7 linked regions of the Homo sapiens genome follow. The protein of the gene in region 6 interacts with the protein of the main gene of each other region in a pairwise test. Each region holds a gene or a part of one and is shown on either strand. Other genes may lie near its edges.

What was found.
Region 1: the proteins of NCKIPSD (region 6) and CPNE2 interact in binary tests that used the Homo sapiens proteins (3 or more experiments, as listed by UniProt).
Region 2: the proteins of NCKIPSD (region 6) and POLR3C interact in binary tests that used the Homo sapiens proteins (3 or more experiments, as listed by UniProt).
Region 3: the proteins of NCKIPSD (region 6) and GAS7 interact in binary tests that used the Homo sapiens proteins (3 or more experiments, as listed by UniProt).
Region 4: the proteins of NCKIPSD (region 6) and DMRTB1 interact in a two-hybrid assay, tested with the Homo sapiens proteins (one large-scale study listed by BioGRID).
Region 5: the proteins of NCKIPSD (region 6) and RBP7 interact in binary tests that used the Homo sapiens proteins (3 or more experiments, as listed by UniProt).
Region 7: the proteins of NCKIPSD (region 6) and LGALS4 interact in binary tests that used the Homo sapiens proteins (3 or more experiments, as listed by UniProt).

What each region holds. Positions count from the first base shown.
Region 1 is NC_000016.10:57,120,083-57,123,582, reverse strand, and holds part of CPNE2 (copine-2), read right to left. Parts: intron 2,491-3,500; coding exon 2,392-2,490; intron 1,910-2,391; coding exon 1,823-1,909; intron 170-1,822; coding exon 110-169; intron 1-109.
Region 2 is NC_000001.11:145,834,200-145,837,699, reverse strand, and holds part of POLR3C (DNA-directed RNA polymerase III subunit RPC3), read right to left. Parts: intron 1,207-3,500; coding exon 1,126-1,206; intron 886-1,125; coding exon 834-885; intron 683-833; coding exon of another isoform or gene 680-682; exon of another isoform or gene 209-679; intron 165-208; coding exon 104-164; intron 1-103. UniProt on the Homo sapiens protein: DNA-dependent RNA polymerase catalyzes the transcription of DNA into RNA using the four ribonucleoside triphosphates as substrates.
Region 3 is NC_000017.11:10,192,107-10,195,606, forward strand, and holds part of GAS7 (growth arrest-specific protein 7), read right to left. Parts: intron 1-3,500. UniProt on the Homo sapiens protein: May play a role in promoting maturation and morphological differentiation of cerebellar neurons.
Region 4 is NC_000001.11:53,458,158-53,462,198, reverse strand, and holds the start of DMRTB1 (doublesex- and mab-3-related transcription factor B1), read right to left. Parts: upstream 2,801-4,041; 5' UTR 2,746-2,800; coding exon 2,169-2,745; intron 727-2,168; coding exon 554-726; intron 1-553.
Region 5 is NC_000001.11:10,003,728-10,007,227, reverse strand, and holds part of RBP7 (retinoid-binding protein 7), read right to left. Parts: intron 3,136-3,500; exon of another isoform or gene 2,921-3,135; intron 1-2,920. UniProt on the Homo sapiens protein: Intracellular transport of retinol.
Region 6 is NC_000003.12:48,675,916-48,679,415, forward strand, and holds part of NCKIPSD (NCK-interacting protein with SH3 domain), read right to left. Parts: coding exon 3,462-3,500; intron 3,269-3,461; coding exon 3,140-3,268; intron 3,055-3,139; coding exon 2,962-3,054; intron 2,822-2,961; coding exon 2,649-2,821; intron 1-2,648. UniProt on the Homo sapiens protein: Has an important role in stress fiber formation induced by active diaphanous protein homolog 1 (DRF1). Induces microspike formation, in vivo. In vitro, stimulates N-WASP-induced ARP2/3 complex activation in the absence of CDC42.
Region 7 is NC_000019.10:38,802,946-38,806,445, forward strand, and holds part of LGALS4 (galectin-4), read right to left. Parts: intron 951-3,500; coding exon 924-950; intron 836-923; coding exon 797-835; intron 607-796; coding exon 577-606; intron 1-576. UniProt on the Homo sapiens protein: Galectin that binds lactose and a related range of sugars. May be involved in the assembly of adherens junctions.

The sequences.
Region 1 (3,500 bases), on a different chromosome or scaffold from region 6:
CTTCCTGAAGTCTACCCTAAGTCCCTCTGGCTGCACTAGTGGCCCAAGTCTTCAGGGAGGACCCTCACTGGGATGGGGGTGCAGAGGGAGCCAGCGGGGAGAGCCTTACGGTGAACATGAGCTGGCAGCCTCCCAGGATGTAGTCAAGGAAGGAGTAGTCTCGGTTTATCTGGAAGAAAGCGGATGAGTCAGTGGGTCCCCTTGACTTGGTCACACTCCCCATGGGGGAGTTGTTGCTCTATGTCCTGCAACCTCAGTAGGGACAAGGAGGTCAAAAAAAGCTGATGGGCCTGATCTAATTACAACAAAACCCAAATCTCTCTATAACAAAGCCTTCAGTGCAATGGTTCCTAATGGGTGGGGGACTCACAGAGACCCCCACACCCCACAGATACACAGACACATGCTGGTTCCAGGCAGGGTGCCAGGGCCCAGTGTCAGTTACCTGACACAGAGTGTCTCAATTTGTCACTGTTAGGTACTTACCTTCTCCTGGCCCTTATTAATCTACCTTTTTAACAAAGAGAAAGAGCAGGCCTCCAGCTCAAGGCCTTCCTCTAGAAGTTGTTTTGATGGTCTTTGTCTCTTTTTGGCAAAGAAGGCAGATCTTTTAATTTTGGTAGAGTTCTAATAATCTCTTTCTAAATAAATGTATTTAAGTTAAAAAAAAAAAAAAAGAGAAAAGAAACAGGCCAGGTATAGTGGCTCATTCCTGTAATCCTAGCAGTTTGGGAGGCCAAGGCAGGCAAATCACTTGAGGTCAGGAGTTCAAGACCAGCCTGGTCGACATAATGAAACCCCATCTCTACTAAAAACACAAAAATTAGCCAGGCGTAGTGGCATGCACCTGTAATCCCAGCTATTTGGGAGGCTGAGGCAGGAGAATCCCTTGAACCTGGAAGGCGGAGGTTGCAGTGAGCTGAGATCACGCCACTGCACTCCAGCCTGGGCAACACAGTGAGACTCTGTCTCAAAAACAAAAACAAAAAACAATAATACAGGGAAGAAAGACTGATTCAAAAAAATAAGTAAGGCAGGTGCCAGAAATTGTGAAAAGTGATGTGAATGATGGAAACTTCAGAAACAAGGACCATCCATCACAAGGCTGCAACCTGACATCTTGACCTTTAACGGAGTGCTTTTTTGTCGTGACACCACTGAATGTTCGTGTAAACCCTAGCCAGACGAGGCTCCAAATAAGGTGGGAGTCTGGGATCCACCTGCTGGTGGAGAGCAGCGGCCAGACTCCTGAGCTGTCAGGCCCTGAGCCCAGGTCTCTTGCTCTCCTGCCCCAGGCTGCCTTCCTTAATGTTCTGCCAGATCCAGCAGTTATTTGCCCACCAGGTCTTCTGGCCCCCACCCACAGCCTGGCCACTGCTGACATGAACTTCATTGCCTTTCTGGGCCTCAGTGGCCCCGGCTGTACCATGGGAGTCACAGTGACGCTGATGCCAGAGAGGACAGGGTGTCCCCACCCAATGTCCTCTGCCCCTTGCATGCCCACCGTGGGCGGCAGCAACTCGCAATGACAATTCTCCCACCAGGACAGGCCCTGGAAGGTCAGCTCGTGCCTTCCCTGGCCTCCACACAGGAATGTGAGAGAAGAGTAACCCTGGACATGCTCTGCCTCGTTAATATCTCCATTCCACAGATGAGGAGACTGAGGCCTGGTGAGGTGAAGCTCAGAAGGCCATAGGGCCAGGATGTGGCAGAGCCGGGATTTGAACACAGGCCTCGCTGGCTCCAGATCCAGTGCTCTGTCTGTCCCTTCTGTGTGGCCTGAAACCTGGCCCCTGGCTCGTGCTTGCCCACGCTGGTTCACCTTGCAGGATCGCAGGATGATGATGCCCGAGTTTTTATAGTTCTTCTTCTTCCTCTGCTTCTTGGGGTTGATGCACTCGAACTCCAGCTGGGCAACGCAAAAGAAAGAGACACTCACCTCGGGGCTTCTTTGGAAACAGATCCTCCTCCTTGGCCCTAGAATCCCTTCCACAGGCTTGACAATGGGGGCAGCATGCTTCCTCCAGGGAGCCTCCCAGGATGTCCACACCCAAAAATGGTAGCAGGATCAGCATCTGCCTCCCTCCTCCCCAGATAACGCACCCCCAAACTGTCCAGCTGAGGGCCCAACATCACGGAATGACTTAAATGGATAGCTCCTGACTGCTCACTATATGCTGGGCACTTCGCCTGCATCATCTCATTCAATCCCCACCCAAATCCTCTGCCCCCATTGACAGATGGAGAAACTGAGTCTTAGATTGAATGCCTTGCTCAAGGTCATGCAGCCAGAAGGGGGATCTCAGCCCCAGGCTGCCTGACCCAAGACCCGGTGCCCCTTCCCCCAGCCCTGCTGAGGTCTTGGGGTTACAGTACACGTGCCCATCTCACCGGGACGCTGTCTCGAGCCTCACACATCTGTGACACTGAGGTCTGGAACTCGCCGATGAAGTCATGGCCCCCGTCATTGTCATAGTCGTAGCACATGACCTGGGGTGGGTTCAGCACGGTCACCCCAGAGCTGTCCCCCAAGAGGTGCTCTCCAGCCCCTCTCAACTCCCCAAGCAAACCCTCTGTCTTCTGTTTGGGTAGTGCCTCTCCTCAGCATCTGCCTAGCTGGCCTGGATAGCTCCTGAACTGCCTCCTGCAGGAAGACTTCTGTGATTGCTGGGAAAAGGAGAAAGTGTGTCTGCCCCACTGATGGAGGCTGTACCCTCTAGTGCAGGCAACTCCACTCCTTATACACCTGGCAAATGGCTCCCCCTCCACCTCGGGTTGTGACCCACCCAGCTTATGGCCTGGGGCCCTCTCTAGACATATTTTTTTCTGAGATGAGCACAGAAATCACAGCTTTATATGCTGTCTGAGCTGCTATGGCCCTCCTAGGAGGAAGGCAGGGATTATTGTTCCCATCCCACTGATGGGTAAACTGAGGCCCTGAAAGAGATGTACCTGCCCAAAGTCTCACAGCAGCAGTAGCAGACCCAGTACTAGAACCTAAGATTCCTGGTATCCTACTTGGGAATCTCTGTCCTGACCTAGCTGTCTCCCCAGTCCCATCTGCTCTCAGACCCAGCCCCTGGGGACCAAGAGCTTTTATTTTTTATTTATTTGATTTTATTTTATAATTTTTTTTTTTTTTTGAGACGGTCTCTACTAAAGACCGTGAGAGGGTGGGTGAGAGGCCTCACGTGAGAGGCCAGGGTGGTCTCAATCTCCTGACATCGTGATCCACCCACCTTGGCCTCCCAAAGTGCTGGGATTACAGGCATGAGCCACCGCGCCCGGCCTATAACTTTTTTTTTTTTTTTTGAGACAGAATCTTGCTCTGTTACCCATGCTGGAGTGCAGTGGCTCAATCTGGGCTCTGCAACCTCCGCCTCCCACATTCAAGTGATTCTCCTGCCTCAGGCTCCTGAGTAGCTGGGACTACAGGCGTGCACCGCCATGCTCGGCTAATTTTTGTATTTTTAGTAGAGATGGGGTTTTCCCATGTTGGC
Region 2 (3,500 bases), on a different chromosome or scaffold from region 6:
AGTATGCCAAGGTGTGGTTATATTGGTGGCTTACATAATGATCAAATTACTTCACTGGGGATAGGAAGTATGTGATCCCAAACCCAACCAGTGTCCCCCTTACCTCTCCTGTACGACGGACTCCAGAGTGGCTGTGGCTAGGGATGCTAATGCCTTATGGAGGTCTTTATGTAGAGAATTAAGGTCACTCAGTAATGTTTTGGCCTAGTTATTGTGATCTGAGTTTTATTCCTAAGTTTCTAATTTATAATTAAATTTTAAATGCTATTTTGTTTTTCATGTTATAATTTATGGTTTCAGTCATGGTACATAAATATTCCAAAACTTTAATACAAGTGTTTAAGTAAGGGTTTTGCTTAACTAAAATTTGGTTGATTAAAAGTCCTTTTTCCTTTTCTTTTTTGAGACAGGGTCACCCAGGTTGGAGTACAGTGGCATGATCTCAGCTTACTGCAACGTCTGTCTCCTGGGCTCTAGCGATCCTCCCACCTCAGCCTCCTGAGGAGCTGGACTACAAGCATGCATCGTTACAGCTGGCTAGTTTTTGTATTTTTGGTAGAGATGGGGTTTTGCCATGTTGCTTAGCTGATCTTGAACTCCTGGGTTCATGCAATTCACCTGCCTCAGCCTCCCAAAGTCCACCATGCCTGGCCTCTTTTTACTTCATCATCAATGCAGTTCACTGAAAATTCATAGAAAAATTTATTTAACAATTACTTCAATTTTCTAATTTATTTAGTATAATAAACATTACCAAATCTTTCTTTCCTAAGGCACCATTCTGATTTATAGGTCAGGCTGCCTGACTCTAAGGAAATAACTGGTAAGGATACTGATGACATACATTCCTCCACCACTGTCGCCAGACTTTCCAACAAACTCTAGCTATTAAGAAAAAGAGAGAGTGTTAACTGAACGGAAAGTCCAGTGATTCTGTTTCCAATGGAACAAATCTGACCAAAAGTCTGCAGCAGGTAGCCCTCCTATCAAATGATGTGGAGAAATTGTCTGGGCTGGCTAGGTAGAGAATAACTCTGCAGGAGGATGACACTAGGTATCAGTGCAGAAATAAATTATCAACAGTACAGGCTAAAGAAAAAAGAAAAAAAGCAAAAACAGACTTACTGGATCATCTGCCAGCAGAGTGAGATACTGATCAAGAACTTGCTTAGAGATGTTATAGCCAACAGGTAGGGATCTGAAGATCTATGGAGCAAAGGACACTTAAAATGGGTTTGGGAACTTAGAACTCCTGACCTTACTGAAATAAAGATGTTTTAGGCCGGGCACAGTGGCTAAGGCCTGTAATCCGAACACTTTGGGAGGCTGAGGCAGGTGGATCACTTTGGGTCAAGAGTTGGAGACCAGCCTGACCAATATGGTGAAACCCCGTCTCTAGTAAAAATACAGAATTAGCTGGACGTGGTGGCGCATGCCTGTAATCCCAGCTATTTGGGAGGCTGAGGCAGGAGAACTGCTTGAACCTGGGAGGCAGAGGTTGCAGTGAGCCGAGATTGCGCCAATGGACTCCAGCCTGGGCTACAAGGGCGAAACTCCGTCTCAAAAAAAAAAAAAAAAAAGTTTTAATTTTAGTTACCACAAAACTGTCCAAAAATATTCACAGCAGGATTGTTTGTAAGAGTAAAAAACTAGAAACACCCAAATGACCAGTACCGAGTACACTAAAATAAAATATAGCACGGCCATTAAGTGGAATATGATACAGTCATTATGAAGAGTGAGACAAATCTACAGAAACTAACATGAAAGGAAGTTTTACATACACTGTCATATAAAAAATCAAGTTATAGAACAGTATGACTAGGTTGGGTGTGGTGGATCACGACTTTGTAATGCCAGCACTTTGAGAGGCTGAGGTGGGAGGATCACTTGATGTCAGGAGTTCGAGACCAGCCTGGCCAACACAGTGAAACCCTGTCTCTACTAAAAATACAAAAATTAGCCTGGCGTGGTGGCATGTGCCTGTGATCTCAGCTACTCGGAAGGATGAGCAGGAGAATGCCTTGAACCCAGGAGGCGGAGGTTGCAGTGAGCTGAGATTGCGCTACTGCACTCCAGCCTGGGTGAAAGAGTACAAGACTCTGTCACAAAAAAACAAAAACAAACAAACAAAACCCAACCAAAAAGCCATATGAATAGTCCCATTTTGGGGTTAAAAAATACATATACCCACATATATGTTAGAGTATGCAAGGTCTGAATAAAGATATATACCAAACTTTTTTTTTTTTTTTGAGACAGAGTCTCACTCTGTTTCCCAGGCTAGAGTGCAGTGGTGCGATCTCAGCTCACTGCAACCTCCCATTCCCGGGTTCAAGCGATTCTCCTGCCTCAGCCTCCCAAGTAGCTGGGATTACAGGCGCCCATCACCATGCCTGGCTAATTTCTGTAATTTTAGTAGAGATGAGGTTTCACCATGTTGGACTATGCTGGTCTTGAACTCCTCAGGTGATCTGCCTGCCTCGGCCACCCAAAGTACTGGGATTACGGGTGTGAGCTGCTGCGTCCGGCCTTTTTTTTTTTTTTTTTTTTTTGAAATAGGGTTTTGCTCTGTTGTTTAAGCTGGAGTGCAGTGGCATGATCATAGTTGACTGCAACCTCAACTCTTGGGCTCAAGCAATCCTCCTGCCTCAGCCTCTCGAATAGCTGTGACTACAGGCATATGGCACCACACCCAACTAATTTTTTAAAAAAATTTTTTGTAGAGACGGGGGTCTTGTCATGTTGCCCAGGTTGGTCTTCAACTCCTGGCCTCAAGGGATCCTTCTGCCTCAACCTCCCAAAGTTCTAGGATTACAAGTGTGAGTCACTGCACCTGGCCATAGAACTTTAAAATAAACAATATAAAAATATAGGAATATTTAAACACAGTCATGCACCATATAACATTTTAGTCAACAACGGACCGTGTGCAGCTGTGGTCCCATATTATACTGGAGCTGAAAAATTCCTACTGCTTTGTGATGTCATAGCTGTTGTAACATCATAGCACAATGCCGTTGTGAAACACATTACTCACATGTGTGGTGAGGCTGGAGTGCAGTGGTATGATCTTGGCTCACTGCAACCTCTGCCTCCTGGGTTCAAGCAATTCTCCTGCCTCAGCCTCCCGAGTAGCTGGGACCACAGGCGCATGCCACCATGCCCGGCTAATTTTTTTTTTTTTTTTTGTATTTTAGTAGATGGGTTTCACCATGTTGCCCAGGCTGGTCTCAAACGCCTGAGCTCAGGCAACCCACCAGCCTGGGCCTCCCAAAGTGCTAGGATTACAGGCGTGAGCCACCCCGCTCAGCCTGTTACTGGTTTTTAATAAATACAGTGTAGCCTGAGCGTGTAGACCATCACATTCACATTAATCTGCCATTCATTCACTAACTCCCACAGGGCAACTTTTAGTCCTGAAAGCTCCATTCATGTTAAGTGCACTAAACAGGTGTGGTTTTTAATTTTTCATACCATATTTTTACTGTACCTTTTCT
Region 3 (3,500 bases), on a different chromosome or scaffold from region 6:
ATATACCTACTGCAACTAAACTTTCACAACGTCACAACATGTTCTGGTCAGCCAAGGAAAAGCCAGAGAGATCTGCCAGCCGCCACTTCTTCTTCTCGCCATAGGCATAAATACCACCCCAGAAGCCTCGCCATTGCAGGGAGACAGAGAAATATACTAATTTTGCATTTAAGTACAGAGGAATCCCTCCTGACATTTTGTTAGAAAGCCTGTCATGTGTCGCCTTGCTGCTGTGAGTAATAAGACAGCACAGTCCCCTGGGCTGGCCTGATAATAGTCAAAATACCTTACATGTACACAAGGTTTCCTGGTTTACCAAAAAACATTTTCTTTCACCAGCGAAGTGAGGATCAGTATCCGTGTTCACAGACAAGGTCTACCACACCATCAGAAAAAAGCTGGGCTTTTCCAGACTGAGAAGAGTACGTGAAGGTCAGCCTCTCATTCATGTTTCTAGGTGGTAACAGACATCAGGGATCCACAGAGCGGTGAACAGATGTCAGGGATTCCCGCCGACTTGTTGCTAAGGGAACTTTTGTGAAAATGCCCTGAATCCACTCAATCCATAAGCCTTGCTCATTGCTTTAAAGTCCTGTGGGGTAGCCACTGACCAGTCCAGCACACAAGTGTGACAAAAGAGGTGGTTCCTTCTGAGCTGAGGCTGACAGAGTGGTGGGCCAAAGGTCATTTTCTAACACCAGGAGCTACAAATACTGGCCACAGCCCCCATACCAAGGAGGAGGGTGATTTAGTGAAGATGTCAGAAAGCACGCTGGTCTTTTCAGTCACAATTACCCACCCCTCCGAGCCACAAGCCCTAATTGCACCTTTTGTGAACAGAGTTGATGACTGACTGAAAAATACTAGCATGAGGGACAAGGTCACACTCATTTTGGGTGATTTTCATGTTGCAGAAAGAAAGGAAAAGGCTCTGTATTAAAATCAATTTGTGTAATATAGCAAACATCTATTAGATGTCAGGGAGCTCAGATCCACTATGTCTATGAATCATCAGCACTGAACAGCCCTGGCCTAAAAAAAGCTGGACTGGTATGTCAATGGCTTAGTGGACAGGCCCAGAGCCAGGCAAATCTGATTTCAAATTCCAGCTGCATCGTTTATCATGTGGCCTTTAGAAAGAAACCTCTAGAGTCAAAAAAAAAAAAAAAAAACCCTCCAAGGATTGCGATAGAGGTAGAACTGCCAAGTCTCTGCATTTTACCTCCCTCTTGGGGTTCTCTCTCTCATCAGTCTGGCCCAGCACTACCTCCTCACTAATGGATCATCTGTCCCATGTATGTTCTCCCTAGCCTTCTGAGGGAGCTAGTCTGCAATATGGCCCTCGATGAACCACGCCTCCCTCATAACCGCACCTGTACCCACCTCCCTTCCAAATTGACTCTGGACAGACCTGTGACTACTTTCCCAATAGAATGTGGCAGAAACGATATGCCAGTTCTGGGCCCAGACCTTAAGAGGGCCTGGCAATGTATGCCTTTGCATTCTTAGAAGCCAGCTACCACATAACTCCTGAAGAGAAAGGCCATGTGGAAAGGCCCTGGAGAATGAAACACTACATGGAGAAAGGCGCCACATGGAAGAACATCAAAGCACCAGACAGGTGAGTGAAGATGACATTTTGGAGGCTGCAGTCTAGTTGAGCCTCCAAGACTCTGCCCCAGCCACCATCTGATTGCAACTGCATGAGAGACACTGAGACAGACCAGCAGAAGAACCACCCAGCTGAGCCCCGTCAATCCACAAAACCATGCCAGATAATAAGAAATTGTTGCTTTGAAACACTAAATCTTGGAGTGGCTTGTTACATGGCAATAGATAAAACATCATTCCTTAATTATCCATAGCACAGCCCACTCTCTCCCACAGACACTCCTTATCAACTCCTGCAGCACAACTGCATGAACCCAAAATGGGAGAACAAAGGGTAGAGTGAAGAAAATCAAGTTTAACGGTGACCCTCAGCAGCCATTCTAGTTGTGCCAGCAAACAGTGTCATATTCTGTTAGTAACCCAGAAAGAAAGGAAAAGGCTCTTTTTAGGAAAGAGAAAAGGTCCAGATTATCCAGCCAGATCCTGGATTCTAAGAATACCACCTAGTTCAAAGAAAGCTCTATTTTGTTTGCATTCCAATCCCATTGTCCCCCAGAATTATTTCCCAAAAGCTCTGGGAAGTTTTGTAGATGCCTTACAACATTCCCCAGGTCCCTAATTTCTTCTCTCCATTCAAGGAAAGTACAGGCCACAGGAATTCCTGGACCCTATTAAACCCTCCAACCACTGACCTGTCCAGCCACTGGGCTTGTCCTGGTACCATGTCTTTCTCTCCAAATTTTCCCCAGGATGGAGATCTAGGATTCTCTATCCACCTTCCCCAGGAGCTATTTCTCAGCCTTGATGTACCCTAGAAAGCTGGTGGAAATATTCCCACATGTGGGGTTCCCAGGTCTATGGAGGCAATCTCAGGCCTAGCTTGGAGCTGGCAGAACATGCTCCCACAGCTCCTATCTCTGGTCTCAGGTCTCTTCCTCTACCATATCTCTCAAATGATGTTAAAAAGACTTCTCGGCCGGGCACAGTGGCTCACGCCTGTAATCCCAGCACTTTGGGAGGCCGAGGCGGGTGGATCACAAGGTGAGGAGATCGAGACCATGCTGGCTAACACGGCGAAACCTCACCTCTACTCAAAATACAACTGCACTCCAGCCTGAGCAACAGTGCGAGACTCTGTCTCAAAAAAAAAAAAAAAAAAAAAAAAAGACTTCTTAATTCCTGTCCCTCGTCATAGCAGAAGAAACCCTCAGGAAAGATTTTTCTAGTTGATTTTATCTAATAACCAGCTGTGGGCCTTGGCTGTAAGGCCTATTCCTTTTCTGGAGGTAGGTGTTTCCCTCTGCCCATCCTTTGAAGAGCTGCACCACCCCGAGTAGGAAGAACCCTTGTGGCCAGAGTCCTTGGGCCTACCAGAGACCTCTACACTTCCCTGCCTGTGCTGAGGTTTTCCTGGAAGCTGCTCTCTGGAAGCCAAGTATGTGCTATACCATTTCCTTGGAGTCTTGACCAAAGAGATTGCCCCAAAAACCAAGACCTCCTCCAAGCTGGCCTCCTCCCAAGGGCTAGCTGGCCACTGGGTCAGATCTGGTGACTCTCTTGGAGTTAGCTCCCAACTCCCCTCCCCCGTGTATGCTTCCTGCAAAGGCTGGGTCTCTCGGTTCCCCTTGCTTCATCTGAACAAGGAAGATCTCCTTGGGAAGTATCCAGTGTGCACACAGTATTCAGTGCCTCCCTCCCCTCCACCAAGATGGGGTTTCCTAGTATCACTCTTTCTATCAGGGTGAAAGTTCCGCTGGAGTAGGGAGCACATTAGAGATGCCATATTCATCTGTGTACCCACAATCCCATCCCTAGGCCAGGAGGCTAGTACAGTCCATCTGTCTGTACTTGTTTCTCCAACAGCTGCCCTGGCCTTCTGAACTCCATGC
Region 4 (4,041 bases), on a different chromosome or scaffold from region 6:
CCTTTATTAATCTTATAAAAGGATTAAATTTCATTCTTTCAACAGGTATTTCCTAAGGTGTCAAGTGTTTGGGGGAAGGTTTCCGTATTTTTCATGACTCCGCTCAAATGCCACCTCCTCCTGAAAGCCCTCTGCAGTCTCAAGTGTGCTATACCTGTGGGCAGGGAGCCTACCTCTGGTCCTGGCTCTGCCCTAAATTTTGTGGTCCCAGGAAGGTGATATGCCCTTTCTGGAGTCCAGCAAAATGAAGGGCCCTTCTAGCATCAGCATCAGTCAAGGAAGGGGTCATCCTGAACGCTCAGAGCCTTTCAGCCCACTGCCCTGAAAAGCACAGGCCATAGCCCAAGCCGAGTGGTGCAGACTGGTCCACACGTGTGCTCCCAGAGACACACACACTGTGCCTGGGCAGTGCCTAGTCCTCCACCAGCACTCGGGGGCTGGCATGGCGTGGGCACAGTTTATGACAGCTGGCTTCCTGGGACTGAGGATCCATCAAGGCAGCAGGGGCAGACTGGGTGGAGGAAGCTGGCAAGAAGTGAGGGGTGGGACTCACCAAGCCTCCGCCTTGGTACTGGCTGCGGGACACATGCCGGAAGCCCTGCTGCAGGGGGACGCCAGGAGGGGCGTCCAGGTAGCCCAGCGGGAACGGGCAGTAGGGGTGCATGCTGGAGCCACCAGGGTACTCAGGGCCCAGTGCACGGTCCGGGTTGATGTTCAGAGGGCGCACTAAAGAACGCAAGCAAGGAGGGAAGTGTTAGACACCGCTGGGAAAAGCATCCGCAGGGCGGCCCAGGGCGGCGGGGTCATCAGCGCTGCCGTCCAAGCACAGAAAGCCCACCCCGCACTTCCTTCCGCTGGGCCCTCACTGCATCTCCATCCTCCAGCCAGCCCCACTGCTCTTGGAAAGTCCTCAGCACGGCCATCAAGCCCGCTGTGGGCCGGGGCCGCCTCCAGACCTCCCCGCTGCCCCACACACCGTCAGCCCGCACTCTGCCTCTCTGAGGCCTCAGTGCCGAGCTCCTCCTCCTCCTCCGGGTCACAGTGAACCCGGCCATGGCTCAAGCCCTGGACACTGATTTGTGTGACTCTTTGATCAACCCTGTCCCTCCCACAAGGACAAGGTCCTTGAGGGCAAGAAATGTGACCCGCGTCCTCCATCACGAATGCCTGGCTCATGGTTCGGCTCAGCCCTGCTTGTCTGTTGAGATGGAAAAAAGAAAGGTGGCTTCTCCTAGATCTGCAGTTTCAGGCCTGTGACCCTGTCAGATGGGACGTTCCCTGGGGACCTAGATTTTCCTGGAAAGTCAGGGGGGCGGGACGAGCCTGCGGGAGCCTCCGGACCAGTGCCCTGGCACACAGAGGGCAGGAGCTTGTCCAGCGTGACCCGGGCCCCCGCCTCGGCCTGAGCCCGTCCCACCACACCACCACGGGGGAGACACCAGGAAAACGCGTCCGCACCAAACCCCGGGGCTTCTAAAGCTTCAAATGTACATGTGACTTGAAACTACTTCAATACCAAAAGCTCCAAGGCACAGGGAACAATGTAATTTATGTACAAGGTGAAGGGAGAAAAGAAAGGCAACATCTTTACTGACCAACTGTTCTCGTGTGTGGAGTAAAGAAGCAGGCTCCCCTCACCTGCACGTGGGGAAACGGAGGGAAGAGGTGCGCAGGCGCACTGGGCCAGGGCGGAGCTGAGGGGAGGAGCCTCCCGACCGCGAACCGGGAGGGAAGAGTGCGCAGGCGTCCTTGCGCTAACGTGCCGGCAGGAAAATTCTGTTATTCTGGAGGAGGAGCCTCCAGCCCAAGGAAATGGCGGGAAGAGGTGCGCAAGAGCAGTAGGACTCGGCTCCTCGAAGCCTCCCCCGGAGGAGGAAGCACTGCTAAGTCGACTGGACGCCATTTTGTTCTTGCATGCCGGAATGGCACAAACTACAGCTAAATGTTAAAAGCCCTCTGAACCGCCCATTCCTTTCTGTTTCTCGTTTCCTTTTTGCGAAAAGTTACCCAATCCAAATCCCTGTTCGAAGAAGGGTTTCTCAAAGCGGAAGGTCCGTTACCCGTGGAAAAACTTCTCTCCACCCCGAACCCCTATGCCAGCTCCCCATCCGGGCTGGCCTGGGCTGCCAGCTCCGGGAGTCGACCGCGGGACCAAGGCCACGACTTACCAAAGTCGGTGAACAGTGGGCCGGGCACGGTCCGCATCGGCCTGCGCAGGTCTAGGGGGCCAGGGTAGCCACTGCCTGCGGCCTCCGCCCCAAAAGGGGGTCCCGCAAGGCTGGGCATCGCCACGGCGGCTCGCTCGCTCGGCTCCACGTGGCTGCGGCCGCCCAGAACCGGCTGGAGGGCTCTCGGGCCGGGGTTCCGGCCCCGCGGGGGCTGCTCGAAGAAGCAAGCGGCCGCGCGGCCCTCGGGTCCCGGGTCGGCGTCTCCGGAGGGAGTCCCCGGGGACAGCGGGCGGAGGCTCGCGGCCGGGACGGGGACGGGGGCGGGGGCGGCGGCCGCAGCCCCGGAGGCCTGCTTGGGCCCCTGCGCACACAGGGCCGCCTCCTGCTCCTCCTCGGCGGCCTGCGTCTTGAGCACCTTCTGCGCGGCCATGATCTTCTGGCGCTCGGAGATCAGGTAGCACTTCTCGCAGAGGCACTGCTTCCAGCGGCATTTGCCCGCGTGTCCCTTGACGGGCACCAGGAAGCCATGGTTCCTGCATCTCGAGCACTTGGGGGTGCGCACCATTTTGTCGGCCATTGGCAGGGTCAGCCTTCGTAACACAACCACCACCTCTGGGAGCTGCAGAGCAAGTGGCGCTGGGATGAGCCGCGCCCCACAAGTCCCTCGTTCTGGGGACATTGGATACACTTGTAACAAAGCGGCTCGCAGTGTGTCCCGGGAACTGCAGCAGGAACCTTGCATTTTCCCTCCTTTTGGGGGGTGCACAGTTTGGAGAGTTTCTGTGCTTTGGGTAATTAGATGCAATGGATTGGGTTGAATAAATTCTTCATGGGATGCTATTGCATGTATGTCATTTAGCTTATCTGAAGTCTTAGGCATGTAATTTTCCAAACTCTGTTCCCGCCACCGACGGAAGGTATTTGTAACTTTATGAAAGGCGGAGTGATATTCAACGGTCCACAAATTTAAAACTCGGGAGGAATGTAGCTCTCGGTGTAGAAAAATACTGTAAGAGGCAAACTGTATTTCTTCTCCCCAAAGCTGCTCCTTCTGTGGCAGTTCACTTCTCTGCCCTGCAGAGATGCTTCCAGGATATTCCAGAATATTCTCAAGAGTTCAGTGCAGTGTGATGGTTGCTCAAGGGTATGCCCTTACAGTAATTCCCGTTTCTTGAGAGTCTTGATGTAGGAATGCATTTCTGGATGTTGATGCCTTCCAAAGTGAGCATACTTAGAATATTTTAAAGTAAAATAGACAGAATATTGTAGCACTAAGCCTGGCATAGTGTCCTGTGCCTGTAGCCCTAGCTACTCGTGAGGATCACTTGAGCCCAGTAGTTGGAGACCAACCTGAGCAACATAGCGAGACTCCTCTTTCTAAAAAATTAAATAAAAAATTCTGCAAGACCCCTCTTTCTAAAAAATTAAATTAAAAAAAATTTCTAGCACTAGCTTCAGTGATTGCTTAACCTCATCATGAACTTCGTTATCCTTGTAAAACAACCCAAATCTTGGGACATCTGAAAAGTTAGCACAAACGTCATAGTTTACCCGAGGGCATTAATTGTTTTTTTTTGTTTTTTTTTTTTTTTTTGAGACAGAGTCTTGCTTTGTCACCCAGGCTGTAGTGCAGTGGCAGGATCTTGGCTCACTGCAACCTCCGCCTCCCAGGTTCAAGCGATTCTCCTGCCTCAGCCTCCTGAGTAGCTTGGATTACAGGCGCCCGCCACCATGCCCAGCTAATTTTTGTATTTTTAGTAGAGACGGGGTTTTCGCCATGTTGGCCAGGCTGGTCTTGAACTCCCGATCTCAGGTGATCCACCGGCCTCGGCCTCCCAATGTGCTGGGATTACGGGCGTGAGCCACCGCGTCC
Region 5 (3,500 bases), on a different chromosome or scaffold from region 6:
CACCTGTAATCCCAGCACTTTTGGGAGGCTGAGGAGGGCGGATCACCTGAGGTCAGGAGTTTGAGACCAGCCTGATCAACATGTAGAAACCCCATCTCTACTAAAAATACAAAATTAGCCGGGCATGGTGGCACATACCTGTAATCCCAGCTACTTTGGAGGCTGAAGTAGGAGAATTGCTTGAACCCAGGAGGCGGAGGTTGCAGTGAGCCAAGATCACACCACTGCACTCCAGCCTGAGCAACAGAGCGAGACTCCATCTCAAAAAAAAAGAAAGAAAAAGAAAACCAAAGGGACAGGGCTTAGGCCCCCCAACCCAGCCTCAGTCATAACTCTGCCTTTTTCTGCCTTATGTATTTACACTTTGAATTAAGAGAGCATTTGAACAGTTTCTCAACAAGAATGAAAACAAAACTCAAAAACCACTGGATTCATGTATATACCTCTCTCTCTCTCTCTCTCTATATATATATATACACACACACACACACACACACACACGTATATACTTTTTTTTTTCTTTTTTTTTTTCCGAGACACAGTCTCACTCTGTCGCCCAGGTTGGGGAGAGCAGTGGCACGATTTCAGCTCACTGCAACCTCCACTCCCGGGTTCAAGCAATTCTCTTGCCTCAGTCTCCTGAGTAACTGGAATTACAGGCTTGCATCACCACACCCAGCTATATACTACTATGTATTTATAATTTTTTTCTTTTTTTGAGACAGGATCTCATTCTGTCACCCAGGCTGAAGTGCAGTGGTGCAATCATGGCTCACTGTAGCCTCAACCTTTCAGGCTCAAGTGATTCTCCTATCTCAGCCTCTCGAATAGCTGGGACTACAGGCACATGCCACCATGCCTGGAAATGTTTTAAATATTTTTTTGTAGAGATCAAGTCTCACTATGTTGCCCAGGTTGGTCTCGAACTCTTGGGCTCAAGCAATCCTCTCACCTCAGCCTCCCAAAGTGCTGGGATTACAGACATGAGCCACCCTGCTCGGCTAGAATTCTTAAATAAGCTTTAAAGAAGAGTTCCACAGGGAAACATGGAATGCTAAGAAGATGAAGATCAGGGTTTGGAATCCCAGTTCCACTTACTGCCTTTGAGCATATTATGTAGCTAGAAATAAACACCACTATTTTAAATAATGGCCAGGTGACGTCTCAGCGGGGAGCTGAAAGAAGTAAAGAATCAAGCCACACAGATTTCTGGGAAAATAGTTTAAGGCAGAAATCCAGGGAGCCCTGGGACTCTGAGGAAGGGTGTGCCAGTGTGTTTCGGGAACTCTGAGGAGCCTAGTGTATCTGCCGCAGAATCGGGGAGAGGGAGGAGGAAGGAGAGGAGTTAGAGATGAGACGTGATTCTGCCAGCCGTGGTGGCTCATGCCTGTAATCCCAGCACTTTGGGAGGCAGAGGCAGGTGGATCACCTGAGGTCAGGAGTTCAAAACCAGCCTGGGCAACATGGCAAAACCCCATCTCTACTGAAAAACAAAAATTAGCTGGGCATGGTGGTGCACCCCTGTAATCCCAGCTACTCGGGAGACTGTGGCAGGAGAATTGCTTGAACCCAGGAGGTGGAGGCTGCAGTGAGCCGAGATCGTGCGACTGCACTCCAGCCTGGGCAACAGAGCAAGACTCCGTCTCAAAAAAAAAAAAACCCAAACAACAACAACCAAAAATAAAACAATAGTATAAATGTCCTCATCCTAAGAAAAAATTTTTGTAGCCAGGCACAGTGGCTCATACCTGTAATCCCAACACTTCTGGAGGCCAAGGTGGGAGGATCACTTGAGCCCAGGAGTTCAAGACCAGCCTGGACAACATAGCAAGACCCCATTTCTATAAAAAAATAAAAACAGCTGAGGCTGGGCATGGTGGCTCACACCTGGGTCGGGCTGAGGCAGGAGAATCAGTTGAACCCAGGAGGCGGAGGTTGCAGTGAGCTGAGGTCGAGCCACTGCACTGTAGCCTGGGGACGGAGTAAAACTCCATCTCAAAAACAAACAAATGAACAAACAAACAAATATCTCAAAAAAACAGCTGGGCATAGTGGTACATGCCTGTAGTCTCAGCTGCAAATAAAAAAGCTTGTGTGTGTGTGTTTAAATCTAGAACTCCAGTTTTTAGTTTGAGATGCAATATGATCCAGGCTTTACTGGTTTTCAACAATATTTAAATATTTAAGTATTGAGACCAAAACCTTAAAATCACTTCCTATTATTATTATTTTTTTGAGACAGGGTCTCATTCTGTTGCCCAGGCTGGACTGCAGTGGTGCAATCTCGGCTCACTGCAGCCTTTGCTTCCCAGGCTCGAGAGATCTTCCCACCTCAGCCTCCCAAGTAGCTGGGGCTACAGGCATGTGCCACCACACCTGGCTAATTTTTGAATTTTTCTTTGGTAGAGATGAAGTTTCACCATGTTACTCAGGCTCATTTCCTATTATTAATATGACCAAGCCAAACTTACTGCTGACTTTCCTTAAACCCTATTATGTAAGCAAATCAAAACCCAATAACTTTAGACTAACAATGAGTTTAGAGTTACGCTTTTAAAATCTGTGAGGCGCCGGGCACGGTTGCTCATGCCTGTAATCCCAGCACTTCGGGAGGCCGAGGCGGGCAGACCAACGCGACCAGCCTGACCAATATGGAGAAACCCCGTCTCTACTAAAAATACAAAATTAGCCGGGCATGGTGGCGCATGCCTGTAATCCCAGCTACTCCAGAGGCTGAGGCAGGAGAGTCGCTTGAACCTGGGAGGCAGAGGTTGAGGTGAGTTGAGATTGCACCATTGCACTCCAGCCTGGGCAACAAGAGGGAAACTCCATCTCAAAATCAATCAATCCATCAATCTGGCTGGGCGCAGTGGCTCATGCCTTAATCCCAGCACTTTGGGAGGCAGAGGTGGGCGATCACCTGAGGTCGGGAGTTGGAGACCAGCCTGACCAATATGGAGAAACCCCGTCTCTACTAAAAATACAAAATTAGCTGGGCGTGGTGGGGCATGCCTGCAATCCCAGCTACTCAGGAGGCTGAAGCAGGAGAATTGTTTGAACCGGGGAGACGGAAGTTGCGGTGAGCCGAGATCCCGCCATTGCACTCCAGCCTGGGCAACAAGAGCAAAACTCCATCTAAAAAAAAAAAAAAAAAAAAAAAAATTGTGAGGCAGGCCAGGCGTGGTAGTTCACACCTGTAATCCTAACACTTTGGGAGGCTGAGGAGGGCAGATCACCTGAGGTCAGGAGTTCGAGACCAGCCTGGCCAACATGGCAAAACCCCATCTCTACTAAAAATACAAGAATTAGTCAGGCGTGGTGGGGGGTGCCTGTAATCCCAGCTACTCGGGAGGCTTAGGCAGGAGAATCTCTTGAACCCGGGAGGTGGAGGTTGCAGCAAGCTGAAATCTCGCTACTGCACTCCAGCCTAGGTGACAGAGCAAGAATCCATCTCAAAAAATAAATAAATAAAATAAAATATGTGAGGCAATTTGTTGTTA
Region 6 (3,500 bases):
ACATCCCTCATTTCTCTTTTTACCTTTAATTAGAGAAATAATACCAAAACCTCCTTTAGGCAGCACACCCTGCTAAGTCCCAGCCCTGGGAGTCATACTGAGGTGCCTGCACATCAAACACCAGCGTCTAAGCTATAGACAAATGCAGAGCCATGTGCAGGCCTGAATGTCATTCACCACCGCAAACCTCAAACGGACACACAGCACTGCCTGAGCCTCCCACTGCTTTTCTCTGCTGTGTCACTCTCCCTTAGAGTAGTAATAATGTCCACCTTCTCTGTCTTTGAAACCTACCTACCTTGTCAGCTGGCCTTGTGCTTCATAGAGAATACAGAAGTAATCTTGCAGAAACCCGTCTTTCCCCTCAGTACCCACATCTCACCTGTCCCTACCAGAATGAGCAGCCCTAGCTCCTGTCCATGTGGGCCTGGACCTGAACTCTCCCCTCCTGCCCCATCCACTTGACTCCTGTGGTGGCTCACCATCTCCAACACATCATCCATCTCTCTGTGCTTGCTGGATCATTCCCTCCGGCTCAGAACATGCACCATCATCCGTACCATTTTTGTTTTTGTTTTTTAAAGAGACAAGGTCTGGCTTTGTTGCCCAGGCTGGAGTGCAATGACACAATCATGGCTCAATGCAGCCTTGACCTCCTGGGCTCAAGTAATCTTCCCACTTCAGCCTCCAAAGTAGTTGGAATTACAGGTGCATACCACCATGCCCAGCTAATTTTATTTTCTACTGTGGTCCATCAGGTTATACAGAGGTCTCACTATGTTGCCCAGGCTGATCTTGAACTCATGGACTCAAGTGATCCTCCCACTTCGGCCTCCCAAAGTGCTGGGATTATAGGCGTGAGCCACTGCACCTGGCCAACATCCCCCATCTGTCACCCAAGCTGGAGTGCAGTGGTGTGATCTTGGCTCACAGCAACCTCCACCTCCCGGGTTCAAGCAATTCTCCTGCCTCAGCCTCCCAAGTAGGTGGGATTACAGGCTCCCACCACCATACCCAGCTAATTTTTGTATTTTTCGTATTTTGTATTTTTAGTAGAGACCACTTTGACCAGGCTGGTCTCGAATTCCTGACCTCAAGTGATCCACCCACCTCAGCCTCCCAAAGTGCTGGGATTACAAGCATGAGCCACCGCGCCTGGCCAACATCCCCCATCTTCAAAACACTCTCCCTGGCCAGGCACGGTGGCTCACACCTGTAATCCCAACACTTTGGGAGGCTGAGGCAGGTGGATTGCATGAGGTCAGGAGTTCAAGACCAGCCTGGCCAACATGGCGAAACCCTGTCTCTGCTAAAATATAAAAATTAGCTGGGTGTGGTAGTGGGTGACTGTAATCCCAGCAACTTGGGAGGCTGAGGCAGGAGAATCACTTGAAACCAGGAGGCGGAGGTTACAGTGAGCCACGATCGTGCCACTACACTCCAGCCTTGGCAACAGTGGGAGACAAACAAACAAACAAACAACAACAACAAAAAACCCCCAAAAAAACACTCTCCCTATCCCCATGTCATCTCTCTCCAGCAACCTCCCTTCCATTTTTCTCTTCCCCTTAATAGAAAATTCACAAGAGTTGTCTCCATTTACTGCTTCCAACCCTCCCCTCATTTCTACTCCCCAATAACTTCAAGCTCTCTCAAACTTTCATTCAGACTCTCCTCCTTGCACCCCACTGACACTGCTTGTCAGGCACCACTGACCTCTGTGTGGTGAATCCAATGGCCAACCCCAGTCTCGCTCAGGCTCCTAACGGTATAGAGATGGCTGATCGTCTTCCTCTAAACATGTGGCTTTGGGCTCCTGCTTTCTTGGTTCTCTTCCTGGGTTTCTCCCTAGTTGTTTCAGCTGTGCCCAGGGCTGCAGCCCGAACTTCCCGCTGACCTGCCTATCTATCTCATTTCTGAGGCAATCACATTGTCACAGGCTTCCCATCGTATCTCTGCATAGACCACTCCGAAATGTCTCTCTAGTCTCAACTCATTCCCCACTGCCTCCCTGATGCCCTCGGTACCTGGGTGTCTAGCAGATATCTCCTCATTCTTGACACATTCAAAACACGACTCTCTATTTTCCCCCAAGAAGTTCTCCCAGCCTCCCCAACTTCAAAAATCAGCACTTCATCCATCTAGCTGCTCAAGATAAATCAAGTGGCAAGCCCTGCCAGATCCACTTACTAAACACTCCACAGCTGGCCTCTTCTCGCCACTGCCACTGCCACGACCTATCCCATCCCCACCCCATCCATGCCACCTGGACCACTGAGGCTGCTTCCTCCCTGGCTGGCTTCCACTCTGCTGGCATGCAGTTGATTCCATGTGGGATGTTAATCACATCACATTCCCCGGTCCTGAGATCACAACCTCTTGCAGCAGCCTCCGAGGCTTTGTGTAAACTCCATCCTCCATGCCTCATCTCCCTCCACTCCCTCCTCTCCAGCCTCCTCCAGCCCCACCACCTCCAGATCACCTCATGGCTGGCTCCTTTGGGTCTTGGTGCACCTATCATGGCCTCCTACACTTACCTGGCTCCAGCAGTGGCCTTGCCCCCTCATCTCCACTCAATGTCATGCCCCCCACCATTTTGTTTCAGTTTCCACACAGTGACCCCCGCTGCTGCAGCCACCTCCAGGCACCTTGTCTCCTGGTGACAGGTCTGCGATGTGCCGCACAGTGATGTCAATGAGAGCCATCATGTCTGTGTGGTAGAAGATGGCAGCTGTGGCCGGGCTGCCAAACACGTCCTGCAGGAACTTGAGGACAGAGTGTGGTGGCTGTGGCTCATGTTTGAAGATGCGCACAGGGTCATCTAGGAGGCAGGGGTCATAGCGGTCAGGGTGGACCTTGTGGGGATCCCAGAGTCACCCCAGGGGGTTACGGGAGTCATTGCAGGGGTCATGGAGTCACAGGGCATGGAAGTGGTACCCGCGCAGATTCCCGGGCCCTCACCCCCTCTGTTCAGGAGCAACAACAGCTTCTCGGAGAAGATCTTGACATTGGCGTGTTTGCTCAGGGCAGCCATGATGACATTCTGGTCAGCAGCTAAGGAAGGACATGGGTATAGACAGGGTGCTGAGCCTGAGAGCCACCATGTGCTCAGCCACCGCCCAGCCAGGCCCCACCCCACCTGGCAGGTGCAGGTTGAGAGCCAGAAGCAGGTTCACGCAGAGGTCCGGCAGCTGCTCTGTGGTGTCCAAGGGCAGCCCATCCTCGACGATGTTCAGTAGGAACTGGGCGAAAGGCGTGCCCAGGTGCTCTGGGAGAGGGGCGCACAGAAGTCTGCAGCCCCATTCCCCTCCGACCCCCGCACCACCCACCCTTCCTGGCTTTCTGTGAGCCTTGGGGATAGCCTCTCCCTGCTAGGCTGTGTAGTCAGCAGGTCCCAGGCCCTCGGGCAATGGGCCCTGGCTTAGGACCTGTGATCAGCTGGTCGGTTACTGCATTCTTACCATAGTGTGCATAGGGCACTGCCTCTCCCATGGAGAAGA
Region 7 (3,500 bases), on a different chromosome or scaffold from region 6:
GGGATTATAGGCATGAGCCACCGTGTCTGGCCAAGAATAAATTTTCTTTTTCTTTTCTTTTTCTTTTTTTTTTTTTTTTTTTTTTTTTGAGATGGAGTCTCGTTCTGTCACCAGGTTGGAGTACTGTGGCACGATCCCGGCTCACTGCAACCTCCGACTCCCTGGTTCAAGCGATTCTCCTGCCTCAGCTTCCTGAGTAGCTGGGATTACAGGCGCGCGCCACCATGCCCAGCTAATTTTTGTATTTTTAGTAGAGACAGAGTTTCACTATGCTGGCCAGGATGGTCTCGATCGATCTCCTGACCTCGTGATCTGTCCGCCTTGGCATCCCAAAGTGCTGGGATTACAGGCGTGAGCCACCATGTCCAGCCCAAGAACAAATTTTCTGAGAGGTCCCACTCCTCCTGGAAAACATCCCCAATTCCTTCTGCTCCCTAAACCTGACCACGAACTCTATCTACCCTTCCCCTACCTCCCACCCCAAAACCCTCAGCCCACTCCCTTTCTGGCTGTCTCAGATTCCCTGGAGATCCGTGCCCCCTCCCCACCATCCATCTCTGTTTCCCCAAGCCATACCGGGTTGAAGGTTGGGGGTCCTTCCATGGTCTGTGAAGTGAGGAAGAAGCGATATTATTCTCCAAGAGTCGACAGATATCTATGACACACCCATTAGACTCCGGCGTTTCTCTAGGTGCTGGGTTAGTACACCTTGGGCTGCAACCCCTCTTAGCTCCCCCTACCCCAATTCTCACCATTCCCACTCCTCACCCGGGGCCCTCCCAGCCCTCCCACTCACGGGCAGGCTGTTCAGCTGTTGATGGCAATGTCCGGGACCCTGAACGATGGACAGAAGGCAGGAAGGGTGAGAGGGGCTGAGGGACCCCACTAGGGAGGAAGACCCTCACCTATCAGCAAGTACTTACAGGGTAAGGTGGCATCATCGGGGGTCCCTGTGGGCACAGAAAGAGAAAGCGGTTATGAGAGGGTCCCCAGATTTGCGACTGAAAGATGTCGAGAGTGCCTGCCCTGGGGTGGCCCACCACCACCACCACTATGCCAGAGAACTCTGGCATCAAAGGGTGGCACCCCGATCACAGATTCACGGAGAGGGGCACCCCATGTTCTGGGATCGCTGATGCCCAGTGAGTCACCCCAAAGCTTTAGGACAATGCTTGGTCCATTTTGTTCTCTGTGCCCTTCCCCTTGCTGTCTTCCTGCTGTCCCGGGGCCCTCACTCGCTGATCTTGATCTCAGTTTCTGCCTCTGTCCCTGTGTCTCTGCCTCTCTCTCTGTCTTGGCCACACCTCAGCGCAGGGGCTTCCTTCTGCCAAACACTTTTATTTATTTATTTGAGATGGAATTTCGCTCTTGTTGCCCAGGGTGCCGTGCAGTGGCACGATCTCTGCTCACCTCAACCTCTGCCTCCTGGGTTCAAGTGATTCTCCTGCCTCAGCCTCCGGTGTAGCTGGGATTACAAGCATGCGCCACCACGCCCAGCTAATTTTGTATTTTTAATAGAGATGGGGTTTCTCCATGTTGGTCAGGCTGGTCTCAAACTCCCGACCTCAGGTGATCCGCTCGCCTCACCCTCCCAAGTCTAACACCTTTAACTTTTACTCTCTCTCTTTCTCTCTGTTACCTTCTCTTTTCTCCTCCTTGTAATTAACTCCATTCTGCCTTGACTTCTATTCTCAGCCAGCTATTCTGAAGGCCTTTTAAAAGTAGCTTTATATAGCCGGGCGTGGTGGCAGGTGCCTGTAATCACAGCTACTTGGGAGGCTGAGGAAGAATTCCTTAAACCTGGGAGGCAGAGGGTGCAGTGAGCTGAGATCATGCCACTGCACTCCAACCTGGGCCACAGAGCAAGACTCCATCTAAAAAAAAAACAAAAAACAAAAAACAAACAAACAAATAAACGTAGCTTTATAAGCCGGGGGCTGTGGCTCACGCCTGTAATCTCAGGACTTTGGGAGGCTGAGGTGGGTGGATCACCTGAGGTCAGGAGTTCAAGACCAGCCTGGACAACATAGGAAAATTCCTCCCCTCTGTCTTTACAAAAAATTTAAAAACTAGCTGGGGCTGGTGGTGCGTGCCTGTAGTCCCAGCTACTCAGGAGACTGAGGTGGGAGGATCACTTGAACCCAGGAAGTCAAGAATACAGTAGGCTGTGATTGCACCACCACACTCCAGCCTGGGTGACAGAGCCAGACCCTGCCTCAAAAATAATAATAATAATAATAATAATAATAATAATAATAATAATATTGATAAACTCAATTTAATTGTATGTTATTTATTTTTAATGATTGTGTTAAGCAACCTCTAGGGAATTCATTCACTATCGTGTGTTCTTTGCCTTTCCTTATCCTCACTTTCTGACTCACCTTACACACTTCCTCCTACTCCAGGAAGCACTTCCTTCCTGACCCATGACTAGTCAAGCCCTTCCTGTAGGCTCCCAAACCTCCTGTATACTCCATATCCCAGCCCCTGCCCCTCTGCCTGTGCCCTCCCTATCACAGACCTGACCATTTCTGGGCTGTCACTCTCTGATGCCATGTCTGTGAGCCCAGTGAGGTCAGGGCCCAGAGATATCTCAGTCATTCCTGTCTCCAGCCCTGGGCCTGACCCCTCTGCCTGCCTCCACCCACCCTCCTGTCCTGGCCCTGATCCCTCTGTCTGGGCCCAAACCCAACTGCAACCCTTCAGCCAGGGCCTCCCCATCCCGGCCTTTATCCCTTGCAGTGATGGGTCTGTCTTCCCAGTGGGATCCCTTGATCATCACTGGGCTCTTGGCATAACTCAGCAGAGGGAGATGCTTGGGAAATAAATGAATGTGGAATGCGCTGGGCACCATGGCTCACACCTGTAATCCCAGCACTCTGGGAGACTGTAGCCAGCAGATCACTTGAGGCCAGGAGTTCCAGACCAGCCTGGCCAACATGGTGAAACCCCGTCTCTACTAAAAATACAAAAATTAGCCAGATGTGATGGTGGGTGCCTGTAATCCCAGCTACTTGGGAGGCTGAGGCAGGAGAATTGCTTAAAACTGGGAGGCAGAGGTTGCAGTGAGCCAGAATCACACCACTGTACTCCAGCCTGGGAGACAGAGCAAGACTCCATCTCAAAAAGAAAAAATAGACCAACTGCGGTGGCTCACGCCTGTAATCCCAGCACTTTGGGAAGTCGAGGTGGGTGGATCATGAGGTAAGGAGATCGAGACCATCTTGGCTAACACAGTGAAACCCTGTCTCTACTAAAAATACAAAAAAATTAGCCGGGCGTGGTGGCAGGCTCCTGTAGTCCCAGCTATTTGGGAGGCTGAGGCAGGAGAATGGCGTGAACCTGGGAGGCGGAGCTTGCAGTGAGCCAAGATCGCGCCACTGCACTCCAACCTGGGCGACAGAGTGAGACTCCGTCTCAAAAAAAAAAGAAAAAAAGAAAAAAAGAAAAAAAATGAATGTGGAACTGAATTTAGAAAGAAAGGACGCAAGAAGGGA